7 linked regions of the Homo sapiens genome follow. The protein of the gene in region 1 purifies or fractionates together with the protein of each later gene. This does not show direct contact. Each region holds a gene or a part of one and is shown in the gene's direction. Other genes may lie near its edges.

Region 1 (3,500 bases):
GAGTTCAAGACCAACTTGACCAATGTAGTGAGACACTGTTTCTATATTTATTTAAACATTTTTTTTAAAAAAGATGATTAATGCATAGTGTGGTTACTTAGGTAGGGAATAGATTCATTCATTCAACAAGTGTTAATTGAGCACCTCCTATGTGTCAGGAGTACACCAATGAGCAAAACAGACAAAAGTATTTTCCTTTTAAGAACTTAAGTTCTAGTGGGAGCAAACAAGACAATAAAGAAATAAACAAGTACATAAATTATTTAGTATGTTTCAAGGTGATAAGTGCCTTTTGAAAAATTACAACAGGATAAAAAGGATAAAATATTCTGGGGGTAGAAATTATCACAATTTTAAATAGGCTCATCAGGGAAGTCCTCACTGAGGAAGTAACAATTCAGCAAAGACCTGAAGGATATGAGGGAGTTAGCCATATGGACATCCAGAAGAACACATTCTGGGCAGTGGGAATAGCTAGCGCAAAGATCTGAGGTAGAGTACAACTAGCATGCTGGAGAAACAGCAGGGAGGCCTGTATGGCTGAAGTGGAGTGAACAATTGGGAAAGTGGTTGGAGATGAGGTCACTGAGGATCCAGGAGTGCAGATAAAGGAGGGCCTTAGAGGTCATTGTCAATCCTTTGGCTTGTATTCTGAATGAAATGAGCATTTGAAGAGTTTTGGGAGAAGAGTGATGTGACTTATCTTACACAAAGATCAGTCTCACTGCTGTACTGGGACAGGGTGAAAACACCTAATTAGTATGTTATTGTGATAACGTAGGTGAGACATGATGGTGGCTTGAACCAGAGTTGTAGCACTAGAAGAAGAGAAAGGTGGTCAGAGTCTGCATATATTTGAAATTAGAGCCAATAGGGTACCCTGATAGATTGGATATGGTATCTGTAAGAAAGATAGGAGTAAAAAATGACTGCATCTTTTCTGGTTTGACTAAGTTTGAGTTGCCATCAGCTGAAGTGTGGAAGGTTTCAAGGTAGAGAAACTTTGGAAAGGGGTGGGGGGTGGATTGTCAGGGGATAAGGATAACGTTTTAGAGATACTAAATGTAATTGGAGATGTAGAGTAAGCTTAGAGTTCAGAGTAGATGTCTGATTGGAGATATAAATTAAGGATTTGCCAGTACTTGGGTGGTATTTAAGGCCTAAGACTGGATGAGACCTCCAAGGAATGAATGCATATAGAGAAGAGAAGAGGCAGAAGAATTGAATTTTGAGACATTCTGACATTAAGAGGTTCAGGAGAAGAAGAAAACCATCAAAGGAGATCAAGAAGGAGCATCCAGGGAGATAGGAGGAAAACCAGGAACATGTGTTACCCTGGAAGCCAGTAAATAAAGAGTTTGAAGGGGAAGAGTTTAGCTGAGTCCAATGCTATTGAAAGGTCAAGTAAAAAGAAGACCGATTGAATTTGACAATTAAAGGTCATGGGTGATCTTGACAAGAATGTTGACAAGAGCACATAAGGATAGATAAAATGGATTAGAATGTGTATAAGAGAGAATTAGAGGGAAGAATTGGAAACTGTGAGTATAGATGACTCTGCAAGGATTTTTGTGCAAAGGGGAGCAGAAGAAATGGAGGAAGCAGGCTCAAGAAAGTTTTTCTTTCTTTAAAGATTGGAGAAATAAGAGCAAGTCTGCATGCAAATGAGAATGATTCAATAGAGAAAGAAAAATTAATGAAGTTGGAGAGATAGTGTATGGAAACTAGTACACAAGAGAAGGGACATTGCCTTAGATAGGAACATGGATATAGGGTAAGGTGTGTGGGGCCCGTTTGGGAAAGTGTATAACTGAGATGGTGGGAGTCTGTTGAGGTTCTCTTCTGGTTGCTGCAGTCTTCTCCAAGTAGAAAGAGAGATCACCAAATGAGAGTGAGGATGGTGGAGGACATGGTAGAGGCTGGAGGATAGAGAAGGTATGAATAGTTAAAACAAATAGGGAGAGTGAATGGACTGGGGAAGTGCGCTCAGGTTGTCTGGCAGCCTTAAGGGTCCGTTTAAAGTTTTTGGTCACAAATTTAAAGTAAGACCAGCCAGTAGGTTGGCTCATTCATTAACACAGTAAAGGCATAGAACAAGTAGAGATAAGGATATAACCAGAGTTACAGATTATCCAATGGGTATTAAAAAATAGGGACAACGGAGTTGTATACAAAAGAGTTGTATTAATAAAATGATTGATCATGGAAATTAAACCTGGTAAGCAGAGAAGAGGAAATCTAGATAATTAGGGACAGGGAACAGATGGTAGGGTCCATGAATTAGAGGTCTCAGTAGAATCAAAGACTAGTGGAAGTTAGCTGGAAAGGTAGGAGGTGGTGGTTTGTATGCTATAAGAAATTTAATTCATTTCCATAAGTCAAATGAAAGGATAAATTCATTCATGTTTTATTGTATTCCATTATTGATATTTTTGGGGTGAGTATTCTTTTTTGTGTGTTTGTATAGGGAAACAGTGTGTTGATGTATGGTTGAATTAAACCCTAGTGGTTTGGAAATTAATTATATCCTTAAACCTGCCAGCAACTGGCTCTGAGACCTGGGACACCTCTTGGTGGACATGGATTTTCTTGTCTGTGAAAAAGAGAGTTGAAATCACTGTTTTAGAACAGCCATGCAGTAGGTCAGCTTTGACAGCTTTCCAAACAGTCCCACCTTCCCTGGAAAGGTATCAGTAAAGGAGTGCATTTACTTCGCCTCTCTTCACCCACCTTTGGTAAACAGTTGCCTCTCTTTGTTTTGTGCCTTTGTACCTGTTGGCCTTTTGTTTTTTCTATACTCCATTAGTGATCAGGTTCTATGATGGTTGTCTATTGGAAGCTGCAATTTGTAGTAAATATTTTCCCTTTTACTTGGGTACCAGCTCTGGTATCATCCCCATTTCAAAAAGAACTCTACCCGCTTCTGGCTCTCTTGGCTCTCTGGGTGCTTGGACGGCTGCTATGACTTAGCATTCCCCAAAGTTCTAGCTTCAGCTGTGTCCTCTCACTTTCTGCCTTCCCTGAGTGAGCTCATTTAATCCCATGGCATTACCATCTTTGGTGTGTCTGTAATTCTAGGCCCACTTTTTCTGAACCCACACCTGTATTTCAAAATTCCTTCGAACATTCTACCTGAATGTCCTCCAGTCATGTCACACATAAAACCAAAATCATCACTCTGTCCTTAAAATGTGCCTTTTCCTTCTCATTATGCATTTCAGCTTCTAATGTCTATATCAAACCAATTGTCCAAGCCAGAAACTCTGAGTTATCCTCAGCTTCTGCCCTTTCCCCTTGCCCTATAATCAGTTAATGAATCCTGTGCGTTTTACCCCAGATATGTGTTTTCCAGTCCTGCGATCACTGCCTTCTATCCATCGCATCTTTTGCCCAGCCTCAAGTCCTTCCAATCCAGCATACGCACCTTAAAAATATTTACTTCCCTACAGTGCAGATGTGTTCATCTCACACCCCTAATCAAATACCTGAAGTAATTTTTC
Region 2 (3,500 bases), on another chromosome or scaffold:
TCTTTTGTGAGAAAATTGCCCCAAATCCTCCTACTACAGAAAGTGTTGATTTTTCAAGCTAATTTTTCATTCTCCTCACTGACTAACAAAGTAATATCCAGGCTGGGCAACATAGGGAGACCTCATCTCTACAAAAAATTTAAAAAATTATCTGGGCATAGTGGTAAGCACCTGTAGTCCCAGCTACTCAGGAGGCTGAGATGGGAGGATCACTTGAGCCTTGGAGGTCAAGGCTGCAGTGAGCCGTGTTTGTGCCACTGTACTCCAGCCCAGGTGACAGGGTAAGACTCTGTCACACACACACACACACACACACACACACACACACACACACACACAAAGTAATATCCATTTCCCACATTTCTCATGAACTTTTAACTGCTGTTATTCCTATCAGTCATTTATGTTCCCACCTATTCTTTATTTAAAAAGAAACAAGACCAAAGAAGTGAGCCTCTTCTAAACTTGTCCTTTCTTCCACTCATATTTATCCTTTGTGTTTCTCAGAAATCTACAAAAAATTATAACCAAAGCAGCATAGGAAAGCCGACTGTTACATGGGAACATGCTCCCCACAACAGGGCTCTGCTGTTTAACCTCCCCCAGCCTCTGGCTGGGAAAGCAGAGGTCATTTCTGGTACATAAGACCCAGGTGCCTGTAGGAGAGATGCCGACAATGATTTCAGGCATATGAAACATTTACAACTTTATAGAATAAAATGTATATTCGACCTGCACAAGAATTGTTTAGGCAAAAAATACATAGAACTATTCAACTGTGATCACAGCATGCCTCACTTCTCTTGATCTCTGTCAAAACTTGCTTTAGCTTAAAATAGACTTTTTAGGGTCTGAGTCCTGGGACATGTTATGTATTTGGGTGTCTAGCCTTAACAATCTTTCCATCGGCCAGCAAATATTTGCAGCAACGAAGAAGAGTAGACTTAATCTCATTTTTGTCAAACTGGTAACAGAAGCTCTGAAGGGTGATTAGGGTGATGTAGGCCCAGGAGCCTGTGCTGTTTAAAGCAGCAAATTTGACTAATTGCTTTTTTTTCTATTGTATTCCTCACACAGACTTGATTCTTAGATCAAGAATTATCATTTTTGACTTTTTAAGTTTCAGGGACCATTTTTAAAATAACATTTTTAAGATGACCTACGCATAGGTCACTATATCACTAAGTCACAAACAGGGCCTGAGGCCCTTGCCACTCTCTCCAATCCTGTTTGAGGAGCTGGGTCCAATATCCAGAAACATGGATGCAGCTCCGACAGCCAGGAGCCAGCCTGGAAGAAGCTGTAACACGTCCTCTCAAGGTTTGAGATGGGAACAAAGTACATGTCATCATTCAAAATTTCCTAGCTATTTTGATGAAACTGTTTAATGCACATGTTTGAGTCTGTCTTAAGACTTTTCCCCCCTTTATTAGGAAATATTTCAAAGAAGCATGTAATGTCCCTGAGCCAGAAGAGAAGTTTAATATGGACAAATACACAGACCTGGTGACAGTCAGCAAACCAGTCATTTATATTTCAATTGAAGAAATCATCAGCACACACTCAGTAAGTGGGGATGGGGAGCCATCTTAGCAATGGACCCATGATTTAGGCATCTGTTATCTTGAAAATGCTTAATCTCTACAGGACTTATTGTACACATGTGCTAATACTCATATTCTTAACCCTAAAAATCTCGCAATTATTTATTCCATGACTCTTATACATTAATAAAACTCCTTCTCCCAAACAACAAAATTCTATTTTTACATAATTATTCCCTGACTCCTAGACATTAATAAAACTTCTCCCCAAAAAAGAAAGTGTACTTTTGGCATAATCCATTTACAAAGCCAGATTGTGACTGGAATGGTGGCATATGCCTGTAATCCCAACACTTTGGGAGACTGAGGCAGGAGGATCACTCAAGCCCACAAGTTTGAGACTAGCCCGGGCAACATAGTGAGACCCCTATCTCTACTAAAAATTTTTTAAAAACTAGCCGGGTTTGGTGGTACATGCCTGTAGTCACAGCTACTTAAGAGGCTGAGGTGGGAGATCACTTGAGCTCAGGAGTCTGAGGCTGCAGTGATCTATGATCGTGCCACTGCACTCCAGCCGGGGCAACAGAGCGAGACCCTACCTCAAAAAATAAATAAATAAATAATAAAAATAAAGCCAGATTGTAAATATGCAGTTTAAGCCCTGAGCCAGGACAGGCTATGGTGTTCTCATCCGCCAAAGCTATGCTATGTAGACCTACACCCTGTCTCTCCCCTCTTCCAGGAACCCTCTCAGCTTTTCCAGTAATTTTCTGGGGGAAATGAGAATATTCTTTTTATTCTAATGTTTTAACATAAAGTGGTAATAAACAGGCTACGCAACGAAAACAAGAAACTACCACCCAATAGTAGCCTTCTGCAAAGAATCACTTCCATTGTTCTGGAAACCCCCATTTCTCGGAAGCAGGCAGTTTTTCACATCATGTGCTGTGTTATGACATCTACATCTGGTTTGCATGCAGACATCACTGCCGTCAGCCATTAGCATGTATTAAGTATCTGTTGGGTGCAGGGCACTGTGCTCAGTGGCATGGGGAAGGAATTGGGAGGCTTTAGATGACTTTTCAAACATTAAAATTAAAAAAAAAAAAGCTAAGCATTGAGGGGTTTGCATTGTTTTCTTTTTAAGATCAATTGGAACTTATTTCATGAAAAAATCTTGGTTTTTAAAAGGTAACCATTTCAAGAATAGTTTCAGACCTTGTGAGTTGAAGCAAGGTCCTGGGGATATGTTAGCAATGCACCCTGGACCTCCCAAATTAGAACCTGCATTGTAACAAGATCCCAGAGGATTCAGATGCACATTCAAGTTCTAGATGCTTCAGTTAAGGATGCACCCAACTTTGGATTATACAGAGAACCAAAGGGAAAGCATAACAAATACACATTCTCAAAGGTTGTGCTCTAGCCCCCATCAAACCAGACATACTGACAAGTGGCAGGTTAGCTGCTTAAAATTTCAGTCTATTATTAAGCTCTTCTAAGAAACTAAAGCTTGAATGTAGGTTTGAAGGAAAGATTGAATCTAGTATTGATTTTCTTCTTTCAGGGTTGAAACAGGGAACTTCCCTGACATTTACATCAAGCTCTCAATACATACTGATTAAATGAATAGGCTATCCTTCTTTTCTCTATATATGAACACCCTAGATTACAAGGAAAACTGTCCAGCAATCTAGCAATGCATTACTTACAGAAATAATTATCTACTGGACAGACTCATTTATATTTGAGCAATGACCCATTTGTCTGTTTTTGTGGTACATTATCTGTCTTCAAAGAATATGTACATCTTGGGTGCACATTTGCTGAATGCAATATCCACATGCGAAAAAAATGGTGGGGAGTACTTGTTTAGAGTGAGAGATTCTTTCCCAAGGGTAGCAGAGAGAAAATGTTACTGTATTAATTTAGAAGTCTTAGAAGTCTTTAAGGAGA
Region 3 (3,500 bases), on another chromosome or scaffold:
TTAAGGAGTCTCGCTTTGTCTCCCAGGCTGGAGTACGGTGGCGCAGTCTAATCTCACTGTAGCGTCCGCCTCCTGGGTTCAAGTGATTCTCCTGCCTCAGCCTGCTGAGTAGCTGGCATTACAGGTGCTCACCATCATGTCTGGCTAATTTTTTTGTATTTTTAAAAGAGATGAGGTTTCACCATGTTGGCCAGGTTGGTCTTGAACTCCTGACCTCAAGCAGTCCACCCGCCTTGGCCTCCCAAAGTGTGGGGATTACGGGTGTCAGCCACCACACCTGGCCTATCCTAATTTCTGGATAGCTTTATTGCAGTTGAAAATCAGGGTTCCAGCTGGTGCGGTGGCTCACGCCTGTAATCCCAGCACTTCAGGAGGCCGAGGTGGGTGCATCACCTGAGGTCAGGAGTTTGAGACCAGCCTGGACAACATGACGAAACCCCATCTCTACCGAAAACACAAAAATTAGCCAGGCGTGGTGGTGAGCACCTTTAATCCCAGCTACTGGGGAGGCCGAGGCAGGAGAATCACTTGAACCTGGGAGGTGGAGGTTGCAGTGAGCCAAGATTGCACCACCGCATTCCAGCCTGGGTGACACAGCAAGACTCCATCTCAAAAAAAAAAAAAAAGGAAAATCAGGGTTCCTTGATTTTTTGATATTTTGGTGGGTTTTCTGACTTCTGCAGTAAATCACACATTTTGTTTTATGTAAGACAGTATTAAAGTCATCAACTCTTGCCAGCACATTCTTCTGTGAATTGTTTAGGTTTTGGCAAGACTAACTTCCCAGTTGCTTTTCTGTGACACCTGACCAACTTTTAAAATATAAAGCACCTCTGTGCCCAGGGGAAAGTCTCGTGCGCCCCGCAGTGGCAGCGACAGAGCATGGCGGGCCGAGAGTGACTGTCGTGAGAGTCCTGCCTGCAGCTTGGGGAGGAAGGGAACAGGCATCACAGCCAGGGCTTTACAACTTAAAGCTCAGCCTTTATTTACATTTTAGTTCAAGATGGGTTCTTTGAAATCTCAAATATTATGTCAGAATTAGAGAAGGAAGAAAGTCTGCTGATTGATAGGTTAAGATAGTTTTCCTGATGGTGATTCCACAAAGTGAGTGCCTGGCTGGCCGGGTGGAGAGGAGTTGGAGGGGAGCCCTGTCTCGGAAAGGGGCGTGGCGTGGTTGTGAAGACCTTGGACCGGGAGGGTTTCCTGGCACACAGCCCAGCCAAGGGTGAAGTGTGGACACCTCGCTGGGCTTCAGGGCACAAGAGACCTTGCTCATCACTGCTTCTGTGTTACAGACCAAGCTCCACGAAGATCTCTGTGAGAAGAGGACGGCTGCCACCCTTGCCACCCACGAGCTCCGTGCCGTCAAAGGGCCCCTGCTGTACTGCGCCCGGCCCCCACAGGACCTCAAGGTGCTGCAGCCTCCTTTGCAGGGTCTGCTGAAGAGTCTCCTTGGTGTCGAAAGACGCCATGCTGCTACTGCAGCCCGAACTTTTTTTTTTTTTGGAGATGGAGTTCCATTGTTGCCCAGGCTGGAGTGCAGTGGCACAATCTCGGCTCACTGCAGCCTCTGCCTCCTGGGTTGAAGCGATTCTCCTGCTTCAGCCTCCCGAATAGCTGAGTTTACAGGCATGTGCCACCACGCCCAGCTAATTTTGTATTTTTAGTAGAGACGAGGTTTCTCCATGTTGGTCAGGCTGGTCTCAAACTCCAGGCCTCAGGTGATCCGCCCAACTTGGCCTCCCAAAGTGCTGGGATTACAGGCGTAAGCCACCGCACCCGGCCTGAACATTTTCTTTAGAGTAGGATCCGATGCTGTTCTTGCAAAGACATGAAATAATGAAACAGACCGCGTTTGCGGTTACTCGAAGCGGTGCACAGCTGTGAGAGGACTCGGCGGATGAGCAGTCGTTGGGAAAATGGTTTCCTTCACTCGCTCACTACCTTTTAATCAGAAATTTTGGTCTCTGTCCCGATAGTAAAACCGTTTGCGTGGGGTTGGCAGTAGGGTGAGTTGCTGTGTCGTGCTGTCCTGGGCTGTTGAATCTGTGGAGTGCACGAGGTCCCGGCTGCTCAGCCTTTCTCTCCTCTTTTGGCCTTCTGAGGATGGCAGACCTCTGGAAACAGTTGTGCATGAGCTGGCTTTAAGGTTAAGCCCTGCCTCAGTAGGATCGGTGTGTTTGGGCGTCAGGTCTCCCCGGGACGCTGCAGTGGCAGCCCACATGCAGCTTCTTGCTGCGTGGTCCCGTGGGATGCTCCCTGCCTGCTGTAGAGATGAATGAGGGCGGGAGTCGGGAGGGCTCATTGAGGCTTAAGGCCGTAATCGACACGATGGGCGAGTTCTGTGGCTGTGACCCTAGTGGAGTTTGTGGGTTTCTGCCCGATAGATTGTCCCCTTGGGGCGGAAAGAAGCCAAGGCCAAGGAGCTGGTGCGGCAGCTGCAGCTGGAGGCCGAGGAGCAGAGGAAGCAGAAGAAGCGGCAGAGTGTGTCGGGCCTGCACAGGTGGGCAGCGTGCCTGGTGGGGTGGGGCCGGGCCCGGGGGAGTGCCGCATGCTGGCCTCAGCTGAGTTAGTCTGTGCTCCTCAGGAACCGCCTAATGCTACCAGAACCCAGAAGCTTCTTAACAGGGTACAAAGAAAGCATTCTCTTTCCAAAGGAGACGTTGTGGAACCAGTCTGTCATCTAGATGGCCCTGACGTGAGGGAAGTGGAAGGTGTTAGGAGCGGAGGTATTGGCCATTCCACAGGGGGCGGGTGGCCCTCAGGATGGGACAGGACAGGATATAAACTAGCCATTAGGAAACAGACATAAATGCCAGCCCAACCCACAGCATTTTATCCATACCGTGCGCTGTTGGGTATCATCCAAGTCAGGGTCCTTGGTGCTGCTCTAAGCAAGATGATCATCCGTAACTAGCCCAGTGATTTCTGTAAACACAGGCTTCAGAATACTTTGTTCTTTGAAGCTTGTTATGCTTGGGCCCTTGATATTACACTTAATTTGTGTAAAGAACTTTTTGAGTCGTCCATTTTACCCTTTAGGTATGTTTTCAGGTGTGTGCTTTTTTTTTTTTTTTTGAGATGGGGTCTCACTCTTGTCGCCCAGGCTGGAGTGCAATGGCACGATCTTGGCTCACTGCAACCTCCACCTCCTAGGTTCAAGCGATTCTGCCGCCTCAGCCTCCCGAGTAGCTGGGATTACAGGCGCCTGCCACCATGCCTGGCTAATATTTGTGTTTTTAGTAGAGACGGGGTTTCGCCATGTTAGCCAGGCTGGTCCTGAACTCCTGACTTCAAGCAGTCTGCCTGCCTCAGCCTCCCAAACTGCTAGGATTACAGGCGTGAGCCACCACGCCCAGCTGTGCCTTTTTTCTTTTTTTTTTTTTTTAAGATGTGGTCGCGCCATGTTGCCCAGGCTGGAGTGAGGTGGCTAATCATAGGCGCAGTCCCACTACTGATCAGCACCGGAGCTTTTTGTCCTGCTCTGTTTCTGACCTGGG
Region 4 (3,500 bases), on another chromosome or scaffold:
GAAAATAAAAATTTTAGGTGAACAGAGGGTTTTCTGACTTTTCAGCAGTGATCAATGTGGGTGTCAAATAGACTGATTTCCAAAATATACGTAAGGGGAATAAGTAGAACCGGGATGTTAGGAGGCTGCAGAGTATTCTTACATTTAATAGACTTTGTATGCACTCTCATATAATCGAGAAAGTGATGCATTGTAAGAGAGAATATTGCTTCCTGATTTAACTAGGAGCATTAGCGAGAATTTTTTTTTTCTTTTTTTGAGATGGAGTCTCGCTCTGTTGCCCAGGCTGGAGTGCAGTGGTGCAATCTCAGCTCACTGCAAGCTCCGCCTCCCGGGTTCATGCCATTCTTCTGCCTCAGCCTCCCCAGTAGCTGGGACTACAGGCACCTGCCACCACGCCTGGCTAATTTTTTTTGTATTTTTAGTAGAGACGGGGTTTCACCGTGTTAGCCAGGATGTTGTCGATCTCCTGACCTCGTGATCTGCCCACCTCGGCCTCCCAAAGTGCTGGGATTACAGGCGTGAGCCACCGCGTGCGGCCCTTTTTTTTTTTTTTTTTTTTTCTTTTTCTGAGACGAGTCTTGCTGTGTCCAAGGCTGCAGTGCAGTGGCGCGATCTCGGCTCACTGCAACCTCCACCTCCCGGGTTCAAGCGATTCTCCTGCCTCAGCCTTCCAAGCAGCTGGGATTACAGGTGTACGCCGCCACACCCAGCTAATTTTTGTATTTTTAGTAGAGACTGGTTTCACCATGTTGGCCAGGCTGGTCTTAAATTCCTGACCTCGTGATCCGCCAGCCTCAGCCTCCCGAAGTGCTGGGATTACAGGCGTGAGCCACCTCGTCCGGCCAAGAGAATGATTTTTACTATTATTAAAATTATTAAAATTAGTTTAATTTTGGATTCCTATATTGAGTTATGATCATGTTGCAGTTACACGGTCTTCTAAATGCAAAGTAATAGAGTATAAATGTTTAGTAGTAGACTCCTGTCCAAAAGGAGACAAATTAAAGGATGCCAGGCAGAAAGAAGTGGAGTTGTTCGTGCAGATTTCTGCTTATATCCTCTTAAAACATTAACTTTAATCCAAAAGTTTGCAGAAAACTGAAAAATATACAGAGAGCTTTGCAAAAGTTTGCAGAAAACTGAAAAATATACAGAGCGCTTTGTACACCTTTTTTTTTTTTTAACAGATGATGAACGCAAGGATTATATAGTTTGGAAAGAGGGAGGGGAGCCTACAGGAACGTTAGTGAGATGTTTGAGATGACAGAATGGTAGCTTAAAGATTTCCGCCATTCTTCCTGCCTTGTCTTAAGGACAGATCATGAGTCTACTTGGTATGGTTACCTGTACTTTTTCAAAGAAAATTCTCCCTCACAGGAGGTGAAAGTGAGGGAATGCCTTAGAATTAAAATCTCTGCCTTGGGAGAGTTGGTAAATTTTTTTAAAAAGCTGAAAATTTTATGACCCGTAAATTATGTTTATTATGAAAGCTAAGAAAATAGTGAGACATGATTTAATTTTGTTGATGGGTGCACGGGTCAGAATAATTTTATTTCCTGTGTCTTAGAATCACCTTTTGTTATTCCCCAAGGCCCTTGGTATTTTATAAATGTATTGCCAGGCTATTCTCAGGGAGTGTTATATATCTTCCATGAAATGTAATAGAGATTTAAAAGATAAGTTGTATGTCACATATGATTTAGAAGAACAGGTTAAAATAATTTTTATTGATAAATACTAGATGTTATAGAGAAGCAAAGAGTTTGTATATGCAGGTTTATATATCCCTTTTTATGTCCCAGTAGCTGAAATTATTTATGGCTACAAAAATCATCCCCATTTTGAAACAAACTTTGTATTACTTAAGTGGTTTTCTTTTTTCATTGAGCCTCCTTTTCTCAATTACCTTTGTTTGAAAGCAGTAGGCAAAAAATTCATTTTATGCTACCAGCAAAGCATTGGATGTTTGCCCCTCCTTGGGGTTAGGTGAGACAAAGCCACACTCTCCCCTTGCCTGGCTGCCTGTCACCTCCTCCCTGTGTTTTTATTCCTTTCCTACTTACGTGGGGGCTGATTTGAGCGCTATGAATAGCCAGGCCTTTGGGGAATTAGGGGCAGTCAGAAGCTGTTGATAATAAAATTTCTTAAAACTTTTAAGCTAAAATTGAAAAGTAAAGAATAATTACTATGAACATATTTTACTGTATTTCTCCTTTTTTTTAACACGTTTCTTAGGATCAAGAAACCCTTTTTAAGGAAGTAAAAGAATTACTGAAGGAAAAGAGAAATAGACTAATATTTTAATGAATTTTACCACTGATTACAAGATAACTCTCATTGTTCTTTCAACTTTGAAATTCTTACTTCCATCCATTATTAAATCTTACTGTGAATGGTACCCTTAAAACTTCAGAGTTGGAAGGGACTTTAAATGTCATCAAGTCCAAACACCCACTCAGTGCAACAGTCACTTCTGCAGTTGTAGGTTGGAAACATCAGGGGGCTAAGAGGTGGAAATTGGATGAACAAGTGGAGGAAGAGGAGCAGAAATTTTGGATTCTACATTTTCTTTACTAAATTTTAGGATCTTGGGAATGGCTGGAGTAGTAGAAAGAGATTATATAAAAGGAACAGATATACTAGAAGCTGTGAGATTGAAAGGAAAAAGATTGAAGAAATTGGCTCTCTATTGCTTGGCTCTGTAACAGTTAGGGAGAGTCAGTTTGCCCTTTAAATATTTGTTTAAATTTCTTTCCTCCAAGGCGGGGGATAGAACAGATAAGGGGATGCAAATGAGAGTTAGCATAATGGAATTGAATTAAAGGAAACATTCTCTTATGGAGGATGGGAAAATTCCATCCTTGGTGGTGGATATGACTGGTCCTTAGTAGCTATCTGGGAATTTTGTTAGGGTGGCAAATATAGGTAGAATTTATGGTGTCCTGTATAATTTTCTGGATTTCTGATTTTGTGACTTATTTCCTGTCTTGTGAGTAGTGTCATCTGAAGGCTTTGGATTTGTAATTTCTTTTAAGATTTAAAATACTGTAAGGACCCAAGACAGGATGATTTATAAACCATTTTTGATACTGAAGGTCACAGAAAACCAAAGAGCATACGTTGGTAGTTGGCCTTACATCTCAGATCTGTCTGTGTTTTATTTTCAGTGTCAGAACTTTAAGATCAAGTAGAAAAGATACCCTTCATCTCTATTTTTACAGCATTATTGATATATAATTAAAATACAATAAACTGCATATTTATTCATGAAACCATTTCTATAGTCAAGATAATGAATATAGCAGTCACCTTCAAGTTTCCTCCTTCTCTCTTTGTTATCCCTCCCTCTCACCCATCCTCGTCCTCCCATCTCCAGATTACCACTAATTTTCTTTCTGTAACTATAGATTAGTTTGTGTTTTCTAGAATTTTATATAAATGGAATCATACAGTATGAACCCTTTTGCTGGGGCTTCTTTTATTGTGATGTGTGGTCT
Region 5 (3,500 bases), on another chromosome or scaffold:
TACGGGCGTCTCGGCACCCTGAGCTTTCTCCCCTACCCGCCCCAGCGTGCCGGGGAATGCTGTGCGGCTTCGGCGCCGTGTGCGAGCCCAACGCGGAGGGGCCGGGCCGGGCGTCCTGCGTCTGCAAGAAGAGCCCGTGCCCCAGCGTGGTGGCGCCTGTGTGTGGGTCGGACGCCTCCACCTACAGCAACGAATGCGAGCTGCAGCGGGCGCAGTGCAGCCAGCAGCGCCGCATCCGCCTGCTCAGCCGCGGGCCGTGCGGTGAGCGGGGCGGGGCCGGTGCCTGGGGCGGGGAGGGGCGGGGCCTATGAGATGGAGCGAGGCTGGGAGGGGCTTCGGGGCCAGTGGGGCGGGGGCAGGGGCGGGGCCCGGCGGGGAGGAGCGGGGCTGGGAGGGGCCTGGGGGGCGGAGCGGGGCGGGAGCGGGGGCGGGGCCTGCGGGGCCCGGCGGGGAGGAGCGGGGCTGGGAGGGGCCTGGGGGGCGGAGCGGGGCGGGAGCGGGGCGGGAGCGGGGGCGGGGGCGGCCCGTCTGACCGGCAAAGCCCCGCCCGCAGGCTCGCGGGACCCCTGCTCCAACGTGACCTGCAGCTTCGGCAGCACCTGTGCGCGCTCGGCCGACGGGCTGACGGCCTCGTGCCTGTGCCCCGCGACCTGCCGTGGCGCCCCCGAGGGGACCGTCTGCGGCAGCGACGGCGCCGACTACCCCGGCGAGTGCCAGCTCCTGCGCCGCGCCTGCGCCCGCCAGGAGAATGTCTTCAAGAAGTTCGACGGCCCTTGTGGTGAGCGCGGCGGCGGGCGCACGGCTCGAGCTCTGTGGGCGCGCGGCGACAGCGTCCTGACTCCTGCCCTCGACCCCCAGACCCCTGTCAGGGCGCCCTCCCTGACCCGAGCCGCAGCTGCCGTGTGAACCCGCGCACGCGGCGCCCTGAGATGCTCCTACGGCCCGAGAGCTGCCCTGCCCGGCAGGCGCCAGTGTGTGGGGACGACGGAGTCACCTACGAAAACGACTGTGTCATGGGCCGATCGGGGGCCGCCCGGGGTCTCCTCCTGCAGAAAGTGCGCTCCGGCCAGTGCCAGGGTCGAGGTGAGCGGCTCCCCCGGGGGAGGGCTCCGGCCAGTGCCAGGGTCGAGGTGGGCGGCTCCCCCGGGGGAGGGCTCCGGCCAGTGCCAGGGTCGAGGTGGGCGGCTCCCCCGGGGGAGGGCTGCGGCCAGTGCCAGGGTCGAGGTGGGCGGCTCCCCTCTGGGAGGGCCGCCTGCTCCCCTGCTCCCTGCACATCCCAGGGCAGGGATGGAGGGTGCTCCAGCCTCTCCGTGACTCCCTCACCCCTGCGTCCTAGACCAGTGCCCGGAGCCCTGCCGGTTCAATGCCGTGTGCCTGTCCCGCCGTGGCCGTCCCCGCTGCTCCTGCGACCGCGTCACCTGTGACGGGGCCTACAGGCCCGTGTGTGCCCAGGACGGGCGCACGTATGACAGTGATTGCTGGCGGCAGCAGGCTGAGTGCCGGCAGCAGCGTGCCATCCCCAGCAAGCACCAGGGCCCGTGTGGTGAGCGCCCCGGGGTGGAGGCCAGGCGGGGTGGGCTGCTCCTGCGTCAGTCCCTGCCTGGACATCACATGCCATCTTCATCCATCATGTTCCTCTTGGGGTCCTGGGAGTGGGCCGGTCCCTCTGGGAAGGCTCTGGGGAGGGTGGAGCCTGTGTGCGGAGGGTACCTGGATACCTGGGGGCTGGTGAGGCAGAGGCGGGGCCTTGTCCAGGCTCCCTGGTCCCTGACCTCAGCCACGCCCTCCCTGGGAGTCCTCTGGCCTGTCCGCATGTCTCCACGCTGTAAGCACAGGCTGTTGGGGTGGGCAGGCTGGACACAACACCAGGGTCCTCACTCTTGGGACATGGGCAGCCGTCGGCCGTTTTGGAGGCAGTGTCAGGACTTGAAGGGCCAGGGGGAGGCAGTGGCCGTCGTGTCCCGTCGTGTTCGTCTTGGTCAGTTCGCCCATCTTCTGGTCTTTCTCTCTGCGTCTGTCTCTTCTCTTTGGTCTCTTCTTCCCTGTCGGCTCCGCCTCTTGTGTCTTCCAGCCTGACCTGCTGGCAGGATGAGGTGCCGTGCCTGCCCTCCAGGAGCCCGCAGCCCGAGGTCTGCCCCTGGTGCGGCAGGGGGGGTGGCTTGCTGCTGCCTGGCCTTGTGGTCCTCAGAGCAAGTGGACAGACACCTCCTCCCCCGTGCAGCCCTGGGTGTGACTCTGGGGGTGCAGGCTCCTCCCACCCACAGAGAGCCCCCCCACATGCATGGGTGTCCTGGGGATGCTGGTGGTCAGGGGTCAGTGGCCTGGGCAGGCTGGGGAAGCCTGGCCCTCCCATAGCCTGCTGTGGACAATCAGGAAGCCCCAAGCTTGGGGGCAGCCTCGCCCGCAGCCACCGGGGACTCCTGGGTGTGTGTTCCGCTCGCCTCTGCCGCGTGTCTGTCCCTTTCTCTGCCGTGTCTGCTGTGCATCTGGCCCTTCTCCTGTGTTCTCTCTTCCTCCACCATCCCCTCCCTGGAAGAGGGACTGCTGCGTGGGGCTGGGGGCTTTGCCTGCAGCGGAGGGGGGGCTTGTGGGACCACTGAGCCCCTGTGTCCTTCCCAGACCAGGCCCCGTCCCCATGCCTCGGGGTGCAGTGTGCATTTGGGGCGACGTGTGCTGTGAAGAACGGGCAGGCAGCGTGTGAATGCCTGCAGGCGTGCTCGAGCCTCTACGATCCTGTGTGCGGCAGCGACGGCGTCACATACGGCAGCGCGTGCGAGCTGGAGGCCACGGCCTGTACCCTCGGGCGGGAGATCCAGGTGGCGCGCAAAGGACCCTGTGGTCAGTGGCGGGTGAGGGGTCTGGTGGGGGTCGGGGAGAGAGAGGTTCCTGGTCGCCTGGTGATGGAAGCTCCTCCCCAGACCGCTGCGGGCAGTGCCGCTTTGGAGCCCTGTGCGAGGCCGAGACCGGGCGCTGCGTGTGCCCCTCTGAATGCGTGGCTTTGGCCCAGCCCGTGTGTGGCTCCGACGGGCACACGTACCCCAGCGAGTGCATGCTGCACGTGCACGCCTGCACACACCAGATCAGCCTGCACGTGGCCTCAGCTGGACCCTGTGGTGAGTGAGGCCCTGGGGCCGGGCGGGCCAGGGTCCTGTGCCTCCCTCAGCCTGGGCCTGCCGACCCCTGCCTGGCTCTGTCTCCTGCAGAGACCTGTGGAGATGCCGTGTGTGCTTTTGGGGCTGTGTGCTCCGCAGGGCAGTGTGTGTGTCCCCGGTGTGAGCACCCCCCGCCCGGCCCCGTGTGTGGCAGCGACGGTGTCACCTACGGCAGTGCCTGCGAGCTACGGGAAGCCGCCTGCCTCCAGCAGACACAGATCGAGGAGGCCCGGGCAGGGCCGTGCGAGCAGGGTAGGCCGGGGGACGCTGGCGAAAACTGCTGGGCTCTGGCTTTGGACAAGAAGCCCCTGGGTGACTCTGCTCCCCTTCCCCGCAGCCGAGTGCGGT
Region 6 (3,500 bases), on another chromosome or scaffold:
TTTCTTGAGCTGATGGGGTAGATAAGGTCTTTGAGATGGGATAAGGTTGCTGTAGGGGGAGGGCAGAGGTGGGGGTGGTGGCATCTGAGCATCCCAGATCAGAAGAAAGCCCCGAGATCACAGAGACCCGGCGAGATCACAGAGACCCGGCCTGAAGGAACGTGGAAAGACCAATGTACCTGTTTTGACCGGTTGCCTGGAGCAAGAAGTTCCAGTTGGGGAGAATTTTCAGAAGATAAAGTCGGAGATTGTGGAAAGACTTGACTTGCAGGTTAAAGCATGAATATTTTATCCAATCTGTATTGGAGGCTTGTCTCAGAAGTTTTGAACAAGGGAATACATGAACAAAGCAATATTTTAGATTAATCTGGCAAATTGTGGATTCAAGTCCAGAGTGGGAATTGAAGCTGTTAGAAGGATCCTGGCAATAATGCGAGCATATAGTAGCTCACAAGGTGTCTTCATATCTCATATTTTATTTGATTCGTATCAAAATTGAAGTTGTAGTCAGCTACTGTTATGCCTATTTTGTAGGTAAGGAGCTTGAAACTCAGAGAGGTTAAATGAACTCATTTGTTGATTTTTTAAAAGGCATAGTAACATCATTAATGGCTATTATCCATTTTAACTGCAATGAACTTGGAGTTCATTGTTGAATTGTTGTTGCTACTGTGAAAGTCAGGGCCAGTTGACATTAATGAGTGCCTATGATAGAACTTTAGTTCATTCAGCATATGATGGTTGAGTTTTACTCTTCAGTAAAAATGTGCCATTTTAACCACAGGTTTTTAAAGTATGTATTTCAGACTCTTCTTTTTATATGTTTAAAGTATAAATAAACTTATCTTGGCAGTCAGAAAAGGAAGTGGCTGTTGTTGATTCTTATCAACATCCAGAATGAGGTTGCTTTGCAAAAGGGCCTAACCTAGGAGAGACAGGCATATGTGTAAATATACGTGACATATTACCTTTCAGGGTGTCATGATTTGAAACTAACTTTTTTTTGTTCAGTTTGTTAGCTTTTGTTTTGACCAGTTTGCCCAGCCCTTTGGGTTCCACTGAATTTTAAAAGTGATTTTCATCTGTGATTACCTTTATAACTACTAATGGACATGAGTCTCAGAGTAGAGGATGCTTTGCTCTAAAGGGTTTCTAACACTTAGGTTTTCTCGTAAATTCCCTTTTTAAAACAATTTTTCCTTTGTGGGATCACTGTCAGTCCTCATGGAAGAGGCCATGAAATTGCATCGCTGGTAGACTCTTTTGAGATGGCAACTCATGGTATCTATAAGGGTGGTAATGTTAAGAGCCAGGATCCTATTAAGGCAGTGTCTGAGGTTCATGGGGGACTAATTAGCTGCTGCCGAGTTTGTTGTTATCTTTTGTTGTGCACAGAGCTGCCTCACAGCCTTTGCCAGGTCTGACTCTGGGCAAGGACCATTCCCAAGGCAGTTTATTTAAAGTGAGGGTAGCAGCTCACCCACATCCTAATTTGTTGCCCTGATTGAAAGATGAAGGAGAGTTCACAGAAGCCCAAGGAACAGAGCAAAGTTTTAATCTAACAACTTTTAAAAAACATATTTGACTTTGAAACGAATGGGAAAGTGTTGTGAATAACCCCAAGAATGCTGAAGAAATGTTCTCAGTGATTTTCTAGGGTCTTGATGGAGCAACTTATAAGGTTAACTTTAGAACCCGGTGTGATTTGTATCTGACAGATCACATTATGCATTGTTTAAAGTTGCACAGCTCAGACCAAGAAGCAGTGTGGGCCTTGGTAATGTTTCACCGCTTATCCCGACAACCTTGGCCTGTAAAAAGGAAACTTCGGGTAGATTTATTTCCTTTATCTGCATTGCTGTTCTCCTTACCCACCCCGCACTGCTTCCCCATTAAGAATAACAGTGCTTGAGGCCCAGTTCTGAAGATGTTGCTACTTCTTGTGGGTGAATTATCAATTCATTTACAGAGAAAGCCACATACAAAACAAGAGGCAGCCCTTCAGGTCAGGGGAGATGTTCTGAATCAGCAAACAGACATAAAAAGAACTCTTATCTTAACTATCTCCTGAACCTTGCAGTTCTCCTGTAACAGCCAGAACACTTTAATAAGACTGGGATATTCTTGGAGATGTGGACTGGGCCTAACTTTTATTTCTGATATTCCACCTTTAACCTGGACCTCCAAGTTTTTCTGTAAAGTGAGCTGTGAAAAAAGACAGGCTGGAGATCCAAGATTTCCTTGTGCTTTCTTATGAAGTTTGGTGAAGAGCAATTTAAGAGATATTGTCAAGGTTGGTGTGCTGCCCCAAACTCTGCGACTAGAAACCAAAAGTTTCTAGGGAACTTTTTTTCTTTTTTTTAAACTTGAAGGCCTTGCTGAAATGCTACCTTCTCCATTACACTTTACCTAATTCCTTTCTCTCCTGTAACCTCTGAGCTAAAGGTAATGTCTCCCATTCTATGACTGTGTTGGATAGTTTGGCTGTACCCCTCCGTGTCCTGCAGGATCTTTCAATATTTTTATCTTGTTGCTACTTACGCACAAGTCTGATTTCCGTATCAGACTTCCAGAGTTGTGGGGTAAGCCTTCTATTCATTTTTGTACCGCCTGCATGCCTTGTACCTAGTAGATACTCGGTATGGTAACTAAAACATCATCGACCTTTTCAGTTGATGACATGGTCTTCTTTTCACATTCCAGGGCTTCTCTTTACTTCTCTAGCCTGTGGTAAGTTAATATATTATCACAACCAAAGCCTAGTCCTTGCAAGATATCCCTTCCACTGTTTCTGACCTTTTTTTCTTTGGCTTCTACTTTCTACCCCTGCACATTGCTCTGGCCTGGTGAAAACTCTGGTGGAAACATGGCTTGCTAGATCCGTGTCATAGCTCAGTGTTGGGCTGGGAGTCAAGGGATAAAAGATTCTGCCTGCGGTTTCTCTCCTGTTGCAGATGTTACTTTGGGCAAGCCATGTTTTCCCCTTCTGCCTTATTGCCCTCATCTTTTCAATGGCGTTGTGGCAAAATGTCTCTTCAAATCACCAGAATTATTAGGAAACACATGTAGGTGTGTTCAAATATTACTCCACATGTGGGGGTCTTTGGTGTTTCTGTTGGTTACAATTAGACTGTAAGACACAAGTTTTGTCATGGTTGGAGTGGTGACCCTTAAAATTCCATGAAGTTGAACTCCTTTTAATATGCAGATGGCTGTGCTGAGCCTTTCAGCTAAGGGCAGAGGAGATTTGGGCTGAGGGAGGATGACTGTGGTGTTTGGAGCTCTGGCAAGCTCCTCTGGGGCCTCTTCTTTTTAAAAACACACACTCTCTAGTTGTGAATGTAGGAAAGTGGGAAGTAAGGACGAAATCAAGACAGAGTATACTGCTGAGAAATTCTTGCCTAAGAACATAGTGGTTTGGCCCTCGGGGAGTCCTGGTCTGGGGGAGGGTGGGGACCAGCAATGCATGTGTATGGGGAGGTTGCTGTGCCCCCCTCTCC
Region 7 (3,500 bases), on another chromosome or scaffold:
GACTTGTAAATATTATTGAAGAAAAGGAAACAGAGGTAGGCAGTCTGTATTTGTCTGGTTGTTTTTAAAATTCGTTTCTGGGGTGGAGGTTTCTTGGAGTTGTTCTGTGTTACATATGTGAGGTACATTTCTTTGTGAAAAATATCTATTGCTTACCATTAAGTAGTGGATTTTTATTGCTGGAACCCAGAAGTCAAAATTACATGTAACAGGAATTCTCTGTCTTGTGTCCTTATGTGAAAATTGGTGAGTGTTTTTTTTATTTAATGATATAAGAGTTATGATATATTGTTAATAGTAGAAAATAAGCAAGTAATAGAGCAATATGTATAGCATGACTTTATTTTGTTAAAGATAGCTATATAAGTAAAATATGTGCATGAAAAGATGCATCACATGATAGCAGATATACATCACCATTCTGTTGTTTTTTTTCTTTTTTACCTCCTAAATAATTACTGAATCCTTAATGTTTAATTCTGCCATGCTAGTCAAGCTATTATGTTTTCACTTTCACTCCTGCAGGATCTTCCTAATTGGCCTTACTGTTGCAACCCACGTGGTCCTTGTTTCAGTTTCTTAAATGTGTGTTTCCACCTACCATTGGACTTTGTACATGTCCTTCCCTCTTTCTGGGACTTATCTTCACCTGAGATCCTTCAGATCTCAGCTCAAACATAACCTTAGCCTTCTCTGACCTCTTTAAGTGAAACTTAGTATGCTAATAGTATGATACGCCCTTTTGCTGTAGCAGTTACCATAGTTACAGATAAGTATATATTGTTGTGATGATCTGATTTCCTGGTTCCCCCACCCCTGCAAAACAACAGCAAAAACCTTTACCAGGCTCTATAACAGGGGGACCAAACTTGTTTTTGCTCATCATTGCCTCACAAGGTACCTGGCACCAGTGAGCACTTGGTAAATATTAGATAAATGCACAACTGACTGCTTCTTTAGCAAACTGGATGATAGAATATGTTCTTACATTGTACCTCAGATTGTGGGTATCCAGTTATGTTGGCTTGTACTGGATTACAAATTAATCTTACAAGCAATGTGACTTCAGCAAGCAAAGGAAAATGTTATAATAGTACACATTTCCATAGGATGTTCCAGATGACCTTGATGGTGCCCCCATCGAGGAAGAGCTTGATGGTGCACCTCTGGAAGATGTAGATGGAATTCCTATTGATGCTACTCCCATCGATGATCTTGATGGAGTCCCTATAAAAAGTCTTGATGATGATCTTGATGGAGTGCCTTGTAAGTTCAGATTTCAAACTGATTAAATCTAGCTAATACATTTGGTGACCAAAACTCTAATTTCCATACATGCTGATATGGAAAAAGGTTATAGTTTCTCATGAACGTATCAAGTTATTAACTTTTCTATTTCTGATTTTTTTCAAAATTCATATACCCAGTAATACATTTATTTGTATGCTATGTATATAAAAGGCCAAGAAGAAGCATTTTTTTCTGGTCACATTTCTTTGCTGGGACAATCAGCCTCCTATAATATTAGCAAGTTTCTCTTTTTGTCTTGTCAGGAAATTATAGGCAAAATCTTGTGCTCAGTTATGCATGATCCTAGGTACCTGGTTTTATCAGTTTTTATTAGTTTTTCTAACTTACAACTTCAGTTTTCCTAGCTGCCTAAAATCATTTTGAAAATAGGAACTGTAGACAGCTCTTTGGTACATTTGAATTATATGTTTAAATATTGAATAATGTATGCAGTTTTATATTTCAGAGATTAGGTAAAGATATTAAAGATTTGTTTTACTTCTCAACTTCTTCACTTGCTTAATATATTACTAACCTGTATTTTCTGAATTGATATATATACTGTTAAAAATATTGCCCTCAGATGCAGAGAATTGGTTTAGTCATAGTCCTTGTTCTTAGTATTACTATTTGTCCATCTGTGTCCTTATTTTACTTTGCTTTTTAATAATATGGTGAATACCCATGAATGTAATACTTCGGGTCATCCACTAGTAGTCAGGGTTAATGGCTTATCTTTCCCTAATAGTGGATGCAACTGAAGACTCAAAAAAGAATGAGCCTATATTTAAAGTTGCCCCATCAAAATGGGAAGCTGTGGATGAATCTGAATTGGAAGCACAGGGTGAGTAAAAGTAAAATAAATATTTTTTAAATTAAGTACTTGTACGTTAATTATTGGTGTGCTTGTATATATGTTTTCCTTTTATGTTTTATAACACGTTTTAACCTTAATGCTCAATGTTGTCATATTTTGTGTCTAATGTATGCTTTTATTGTGGTTGGTGTTGCTGTTACAATTTTCTTAGGTCCTTCAGTTTGGAAGCTTTGAGAGTAATGAGATATCACTGAAAACCTTTCAGGTTAAGGCATTTTAGTAGCAAATGTAGATTGGAAGCTGTACCTACGTAGAAATCTACATAGAGGTCAGTTTCATAGAAACCAAGCTTTGACCCTCCCATAATGCTAGACTGATTAGATGCAATTTAGACCTGTCTTTCACACTTACTTAGACCTGTATCCTAGTGCTAATAATCTAATTGTTGCTATTTGTAGGTTCTAATGAAATAAATCTTAATATTCAACACAGAAATAAGGATGACATTATTCGTCACTTCATGAATTTGAATTATATTGTAGGTGTGAGGAAAGAGATTTGGCATATAGAAATAACTATTTAGAGAATTGATAAACATAGATTAAAAAAACTTCTGTAATATAAACTTTTCAATTCTAAAGCTTGAGCTTCCACTGTACTACTGAAAAAATGCTAGTTTACCTCGTGGAATTACATCCTCCTTTTCCTTTCATTCAGCTGTTACAACTTCTAAATGGGAATTATTTGACCAGCATGAAGAATCAGAAGAAGAAGAAAATCAAAAGTAAGAATCTAAGTTTTGAATATACTGTTTCTTGTTCATATACACTCCCCTTTTCATTAAGAGATATAGTTGAAATAATAGTGAAGTGGAAAACTTCACTCTTAAAAAATTTTGGGAGAGGATCATTTTTAGTTCTCCATTGGTTTTCCAGTGAATAAAGAGCTTTTGTTTTCTGGTCTTGATGGATCTGGTTTCATTTTGCTTTTGAGTTTTTTACGCTAGGTTATATTCTCACTTTGTAGTTACTAATTGGTCAACTGCATTTTTTTCAAACCTTTGCCATCAAATACTGTTTTGGGCTCCATAAAAAGTGGTTTTTAAAATGTGAATAGGAAAGGTTATACTCCTTTCTTTTGGATTGTACATTCTAAGAAAAAGATTGCATTATGGCCATTGTGTTATTTAAATATAAACCTTTCAGAAGAACTAAGAATGAATACAAAGGAAAAAATCTTTTCTTTTGAAATATAGAGAAATAATAATTTTGATTTTGCTGTTTGGTAATCACCCCAAAATTGTTTTTGTATTTGACACTGTGTGGTTGTAGGAATCTCTCCTCTCAGATTCTCCTGCAAGTCTGTATTGGCAGTTTTTAGGAAGTTCTTGACA

Evidence for each region.
Region 2: the proteins of SLC35F4 (region 1) and IQGAP2 purify together in Homo sapiens (affinity purification with mass spectrometry; one large-scale study listed by BioGRID and IntAct). This does not show direct contact.
Region 3: the proteins of SLC35F4 (region 1) and LRRC47 purify together in Homo sapiens (affinity purification with mass spectrometry; one large-scale study listed by BioGRID and IntAct). This does not show direct contact.
Region 4: the proteins of SLC35F4 (region 1) and DIAPH1 purify together in Homo sapiens (affinity purification with mass spectrometry; one large-scale study listed by BioGRID and IntAct). This does not show direct contact.
Region 5: the proteins of SLC35F4 (region 1) and AGRN purify together in Homo sapiens (affinity purification with mass spectrometry; one large-scale study listed by BioGRID and IntAct). This does not show direct contact.
Region 6: the proteins of SLC35F4 (region 1) and SMARCA2 purify together in Homo sapiens (affinity purification with mass spectrometry; one large-scale study listed by BioGRID and IntAct). This does not show direct contact.
Region 7: the proteins of SLC35F4 (region 1) and U2SURP purify together in Homo sapiens (affinity purification with mass spectrometry; one large-scale study listed by BioGRID and IntAct). This does not show direct contact.

Annotation. Positions count from the first base shown.
Region 1 is NC_000014.9:57,859,593-57,863,092, reverse strand, and holds part of SLC35F4 (solute carrier family 35 member F4), read left to right. Parts: intron 1-3,500. UniProt on the Homo sapiens protein: Putative solute transporter.
Region 2 is NC_000005.10:76,675,785-76,679,284, forward strand, and holds part of IQGAP2 (ras GTPase-activating-like protein IQGAP2), read left to right. Parts: intron 1-1,433; coding exon 1,434-1,566; intron 1,567-3,500. UniProt on the Homo sapiens protein: Binds to activated CDC42 and RAC1 but does not seem to stimulate their GTPase activity. Associates with calmodulin.
Region 3 is NC_000001.11:3,782,999-3,786,498, reverse strand, and holds part of LRRC47 (leucine-rich repeat-containing protein 47), read left to right. Parts: intron 1-1,295; coding exon 1,296-1,412; intron 1,413-2,387; coding exon 2,388-2,503; intron 2,504-3,500.
Region 4 is NC_000005.10:141,612,501-141,616,000, reverse strand, and holds part of DIAPH1 (protein diaphanous homolog 1), read left to right. Parts: intron 1-3,500. UniProt on the Homo sapiens protein: Actin nucleation and elongation factor required for the assembly of F-actin structures, such as actin cables and stress fibers. Binds to the barbed end of the actin filament and slows down actin polymerization and depolymerization.
Region 5 is NC_000001.11:1,040,620-1,044,119, forward strand, and holds part of AGRN (agrin isoform 2 precursor), read left to right. Parts: intron 1-45; coding exon 46-261; intron 262-553; coding exon 554-778; intron 779-858; coding exon 859-1,083; intron 1,084-1,156; exon of another isoform or gene 1,157-1,177; intron 1,178-1,336; coding exon 1,337-1,543; intron 1,544-1,557; exon of another isoform or gene 1,558-2,129; intron 2,130-2,619; coding exon 2,620-2,838; intron 2,839-2,918; coding exon 2,919-3,113; intron 3,114-3,203; coding exon 3,204-3,404; intron 3,405-3,489; coding exon 3,490-3,500. UniProt on the Homo sapiens protein: Isoform 1, isoform 4 and isoform 5: neuron-specific (z+) isoforms that contain C-terminal insertions of 8-19 AA are potent activators of AChR clustering.
Region 6 is NC_000009.12:2,021,847-2,025,346, forward strand, and holds part of SMARCA2 (SWI/SNF-related matrix-associated actin-dependent regulator of chromatin subfamily A member 2), read left to right. Parts: intron 1-98; exon of another isoform or gene 99-271; intron 272-3,500. UniProt on the Homo sapiens protein: ATPase involved in transcriptional activation and repression of select genes by chromatin remodeling (alteration of DNA-nucleosome topology).
Region 7 is NC_000003.12:143,036,070-143,039,569, forward strand, and holds part of U2SURP (U2 snRNP-associated SURP motif-containing protein), read left to right. Parts: coding exon 1-35; intron 36-1,109; coding exon 1,110-1,266; intron 1,267-2,038; coding exon 2,039-2,134; intron 2,135-2,824; coding exon 2,825-2,891; intron 2,892-3,500.